Linked DNA regions of Homo sapiens: region 2 is linked to region 1. The links come from fine-mapping of genetic effects on plasma protein levels. Region 1 holds a variant in brackets. A gene starts in the other region. All regions are shown on their reverse strands. Region 1 overlaps TRPV3 (transient receptor potential cation channel subfamily V member 3). Region 2 holds the start of FABP9 (fatty acid binding protein 9).

The links. PIP is the posterior inclusion probability: the model's chance that the variant is causal. The UK Biobank Pharma Proteomics Project read protein levels with antibody pairs (Olink). The fine-mapping took linkage between variants from a reference panel, not from the people measured, so its PIPs are less certain.
Region 2: FABP9 starts here. The variant in region 1 is fine-mapped to the plasma level of the FABP9 protein (UK Biobank, PIP above 0.99).

The regions. Positions count from the first base shown.
Region 1 is chr17:3,523,156-3,526,080 of GRCh38, reverse strand. It overlaps TRPV3 (transient receptor potential cation channel subfamily V member 3), which reads left to right. Exons shown (of 18, transcript NM_145068.4): 13 at 1,718-1,883. Among named protein-coding and RNA genes, the nearest start is that of TRPV3, 33 kb to the left of the region's middle. RefSeq lists an enhancer at 1,367-1,866. The variant G/A (reference allele first, on the strand shown) is at 1,794.
Region 2 is chr8:81,460,215-81,463,139 of GRCh38, reverse strand. FABP9 (fatty acid binding protein 9) reads left to right here and starts at 1,561. Exons shown (of 4, transcript NM_001080526.2): 1 at 1,561-1,689. The coding sequence starts at 1,617. LOC101927118 (a long non-coding RNA gene) reads right to left here and starts at 1,682. Exons shown (of 9, transcript XR_001745980.2): 1 at 1,166-1,682.

The sequences.
Region 1 (2,925 bases):
GTTAGCTATTTTATAATTTTGGAAACTGTCTGATGTTATAAGACAGTGTTTTTATCCAGATGTCTGCATAATGGATGTTATGCAGATGTCTGCATGTGACTGTGTAGGAGTAGATATTGATTTTGTATGTTTGCGATATATTATACTTAAAAACATTTTAACTGTGGGCCGGGCACGATGGGTCATGCTTGTAATCCCAGCACTTTGGTGGGCCAAGGTGGGCCTATCATCTGAGGTCAGGAGTTTGAGACCAGTCTGGTGAAATCCCCTCTCTCTACAAAAAATACAAAAATTAGCCTTGTGTGTGGTGGCATGCACCTGTAATCCCAGCTACTCTGGAGGCTGAGGCAGGAGAATTGCTTGAACCAGGGAGGCGGAGGCTGCAGTGAGCCGAGATCATGCCACTGTACTCCAGCCTGGGCGACAGAGTGAGACTACATCTCAAAAAAAAAAAAAAAATTAATTGTGGTAAAATACACATAGCATAAAAGTTAGCATTGCACCCATTTTTTAAGCGTAGAAATCAATACTGTGAAGTACATTCATGTTGTTGGGCAATCAGTCTTTAGAACTGTTTTCGTCCTGTAAAACTCAAACTCCATACCCCTTAAACAACAGCCCCTATTCCTCTCCTTTCCCGGCCCCCTGTAACCACCATTCTTCCATCTTTCTCTGTGAATTGGACTATTTTAGGTACAGTCATATAGTGGAGTCACCTATCTTATTTCACTTAGCATACATCATACTTTAAAAAGATTTAATGCTGGGCGCGTTGGCTCACGCCTGTAATCCCAGCACTTTGGGAGGCCGAGGTGGGTGGATCACCTGAGGTCAGAAGTTCGAGACCAGCCTGGCCAACATGGTGAAACCCCATCTCTACTAAAAATACAAAAATGAGCCTGGTGTGGTGGCGGGTGCCTGTAATCCCAGCTACTAGGGAGGCTGAGGCAGGAGAATCACTTGAGCCTGGGAGGCGGAGGTTGCAGTGAGCAGAGTTCATGCCACTGTACTCCAGCCTAGGTGACAGAGCAAGACCCTGTCTCTGCCCCCCTGACCCCCCCAAAAAACACCACGATTTAAAAAGTAGGGTTTGGGGGACTTTTGCTATGATTGGCTTTTAAGTATAGATATTGGCAGTTTTTGTCATTTTGGTTAAAAATACAATCATTTACCACATCTTTGGTCTACTCCAGTAGTTCTCAAATCGATGCAGGAGTCAGAAATTATGTGGGTGATTTAGATTATTTTTCTTTTCTTTTTTTTTTTTTTTTTGTAGAGACAAGGTCTCACTATGTCACTCAGGCTGGTCCTGAACTCCTGGCCTGAAGCGTTTCTCCTATCTCAGCCCCCCAAAGTGTTGGGATTACAGGCGAAAGCCACTACACCAGGCCCGTGTGGGTAATTTAAAAAATATATGGCCTCCCGGGCAGTACCCTAGAATCTTCTGCGGCCCTGTGGATGTGTGTTTTTTCTTTTTTTAAAGTCCCCACCAGCTGCAATCAGCTTACCACAGGCTGTGAGTGGCATCTGGTGATGTCTCTACAGGCTGAATTCTATGGTAGCCAAATGGATCTGAGGCAGCGTGATTCTGGTCTCTTCAGCATCCGTCACCGGGGTGACTGTTCAGGGGGTTTAAGGGAGGTTTGGGGGATTTGCATATCTTTGCCCTGATGCTGAGAAGTAAGTAAGGCCCGTGTCTCCTGTGTCTCCTGAACAGTTTTATCCAAGCTGTGCTTGTGATACTGTCTGTCTTCTTGTACTTGTTTGCCTACAAAGAGTACCTCGCCTGCCTC[G/A]TGCTGGCCATGGCCCTGGGCTGGGCGAACATGCTCTACTATACGCGGGGTTTCCAGTCCATGGGCATGTACAGCGTCATGATCCAGAAGGTGCGTTGAGAGCTGCGCCGGCGGGAGGGCCCTCGGAGGATGGCCATTTTTCAGATGGGGAAACTGAGATCTGGAGAGGAAGAGGGGTTTACCAAGGGGCAGGTCACTGCTCTTTCTCCCAAATGCCATGCACTCCCTTTGCTTTCGGCCAGGCTTTAAGTGTCAAGACCTTAAATCCCCCAGGCTTGTGGGGTGCTGGGGAGGGGTACAGTTTGTGGAGGAATGTTCTCACCCCTGGGCAGTGGCGTGCTGGTAAACATTTAACGACTGTTCTGTGTGTGTGTGTGTGTATGTGTGTGTGTGTAGGTGGAATATGTATATTCCATATATATACACAAAAGACTTATCATACATTTTACTATATAAACGATGTGTATCACACAATTTGCAAATAATGAAAATATACCATGCAGTTTATTGTAAATTCCACATAGCCAGTTGAGTCTCAGAATAATTTGTTGCTTTTTTTTTTTTTTTTTGGAGACCAAGTCTTGCTCTGCTGCCCAGGCCAGAGTAAAGTGGTGCGATCTCGGCTCCCTGCAACCTCTGCCTCCTGGGTTCAAGCAGTTCTCCTGCCTCAGCCTCCAGAGTAGCTGGGATCACAGGCACGCACCACCATGTTGGCTAATTTTTGTATTTTTAGTAGAGACAGGGTTTCAGCATGTTGGCCAGGATTGTCTTGAACTCCTGACCTCAGGTGATCCACCTGCCTCGGCCTCCCAAAGTGCTGGGATTACAGGCATGAACCACCGCGCCAGGCCTATTTGTTGCTTTTTATTGAATTCTAGTTTTTGTTGTCAACTTTTGGTTGCAATTGACAAAAGAGTGCTATCAGACATGAATGTTGGTTGAGAGTTTTCTTTATAAGCAGTGATTGAAGTGAAACAATTAAGATTTATGTTGAACTTTACTTGTTTATCAATGATGTGAGCAACTTCTTTGCTGAATTGGATACTAGTTTGCAAATACCAGAATAATATTCTGTTGATATTTTTGTGCTATACATAATGTAAAGGCTGCAGACAGAACACATTTTAAAATT
Region 2 (2,925 bases), not on the chromosome of region 1:
TTCTCTTCCTGCGTTAGTTTGCTGAGGATAATTGAAACCAGAAATCTGATGTTAGCTTTTGTCTCATGGGCCAACTGAGTTCTAAACGGACCACAGGAATATCATTCTATGACAGGAGAATCAAAACAACAAGGAAGATTATGCTGATGGGAGACCTTTGCTACACTACCCAGCTGGCCAACAGGCATAGCAATGTATGCTTGCTTTCTTTAAAGCAGAGAGTGCATACACATCTCGAACCAGTTAAGCAAACGTTTAACAACTTGCTCTATATTTGAACATCACCTCTGAATGCACTTTCAACTGCTGAGGCACTTATTTTGAGCTTGGGTCTTAGTTTCCTGAAATTAACTCCAGGATTTTCACTTACCCTGTTTTGCACTGTAGATAATTTAATAATTGTCCCACCCATAAAGATATCACATTATATGTTTCTTCTTTATATGTTTTCATCAAAAGCCATCCTTTATTCCACTTAAGTTATTGTTTTACAGTACCAAAATATCAACCTCCTGTTTATTTTGTTCACAAACAATATTTTCTGAATTAAATAAATACTTCATACAAAGCAGGTAAAAATATAAATATTCTTCTTCTGGTCCCTGACACTAACTTTCCAACATCTTCTAAAGTTAACTGGAGTTCAAAACCGTAATGTAAATCAACAGCTACTGAATCTACTCCTTCTTACTAAACTCAGTACCTGCAAAGTCCACTTCCATTATTGGGGTTGCAGAAGATGGTTTCAGAAGTAATGGCACAGAGATTGAAACCATTTGCTGCCTTTGTCTTTCTTTTAGAATGCAGATTCCAAACATCTTTTTCTATATGAAACTTGCCAAAATTTTTTCTTATAATTTAAAATATCTTTTAATGTAGAGTTTACTTTGTAAGCCTGAAAGACGAATTTTGTAGGCATTCGCTCTGCTTCCTTTTCAGAGCTTAAATCATATACTATTATCCAATGATAATTGTCACCTTTCTTTCCTGTCCTCAATTACCTTCGATTAACAACAATGATAATATATTAATAATACCCTCCATTTCCCTCCAAGCAATTATAGGCATTTTAGTTACATTAACTAATATCAACCCATCAACCCTGTAAGGAAGGGAAGGGAAGATATTATTTTAATGAAGAGGATGTTTGAGCACTGTGACTTACCCAAACAAAAAACAGCTGAGGTGGACCAAGCAAGGATTTCTTGTCTTAGGTAGGAAAACATCTCAGCCAGGTGTTTATCAATTTGTCAGGATATTCCTCCAGGGTTGACTCAGTATTCATTGTTCAAAAAGCTGATGTCTATTGAAGATTGTCTCCGTTCCACAAGTAATATTTGTCAGGTGACTTGGGTGTAAATCTTTTTGCTAGAAGCTAAAATCATTGACCAGAATTTAATTTTACATGCTAATTTTCTGTCTCTTAATTTGGAGGTAAATAAAATGAGTCAAATGCTGGTGCCTAGAATCTTTAGTCTTGCTGCTGTTGCCCATTGGCCATTTCAGAAGAGTCACGTGATGAAGACGCTCTTTAAATTAAACTACTGGCAGCACCGTAATGCCTATATTTCTTTGGTTTTCAATTACGAGTGGCTCTTCTCAGCAAGTGTTCCATGATGGTTGAGCCCTTCTTGGGAACCTGGAAGCTGGTCTCCAGTGAAAACTTTGAGGATTACATGAAAGAACTGGGTGAGAAATACCATTACAAATTTGGAAATTGGCAAAGCATTTTGTGATGTGATTGGGTTTGTACTTTACCATGAATTTTCCTACAATTATCTTCCTTTTGTGATCCTAGGGTATATAGACTAACACAATGTATGCTTCTACTTTTGCTTTTTTAAATTACTAGTAATAATTGTCTCTTTTTGGAAGACTAGGCCCACAGACACCTCTGTCCAGTCATGATCCATATATTTAAGCCCATTTATCCTTTTTGAAAATACTTCACCTAACTTCTAGATAGAATTTCATTTTAGCTTGGTCATTTCATTTAATAACATTTTTCCCAGCTTCAAATTTATAGACAGTAATCACTACCTACAATTAAATTGATCAATTAAATTTGTTTCAAGGTTTAAGTTATAGCTTTAAAACAGCAGTATCAACTAACAAAATTTCTAGTTGGTTAATTTTTAGAGTTCTCATAAATGTGAGAGATATTTTATAAACATGGTTTTGAAGAATTACAAATCTGAAGAAACACAACATTTTTACTCATTGAATGTCTCACCACTGGATATTCCTCAGAATTATAAACCCTACCAATCCTTTAATCTCTAACTCAAGTCATTTAGTTACACATTAATTATAATGACTTGGGTGTATAATAGCTAAACTGTTCTTTACTAATGGAAGAACAGCAATTATTTCATATTTTTCATATTTAATTAAGAGAAACCTCCCTTGTAGTAAACTGTATACAAAGCCAAGGACTTTCTTATCTTTACTTTTTTTTAACTTACATAACATGCTTAATGGATGCTTACAATTATTAATTATGTTTACTCATTCTAGACAATGAAATAACAATGCCTTATCCCCATAATAAGTCAATGTGCTTATAAATGTAATATTTGTTCCTCTGATGTAGTCAATATTCACTTTCTCAGAGGGTCATAAGAAACAAGTTTTTCTGTCTCTTCATAGATTTATAGACTCACTTGTTTTGAATAAAAATTGGGGGGGTATATAAAAAACTTGGGCCTTATGGCCAGAGTAGCACTTGTGTTGACTGGGAGCTGGGTTTAGGCATAATACAAGCAAGAATAACAGCTGAGCAGTTTCTATGTGCCAGTACCATGCTAACCCCTTTCATTTAACCTTTTAAAACATCCGCTGGCTGGGTACAGTGGCTCAGGCCTCCAATCCCAGCACTTTGGGAGGCCAAGGCAGGTGGATCACCTGAGGTCAGGAGTTCGAGAT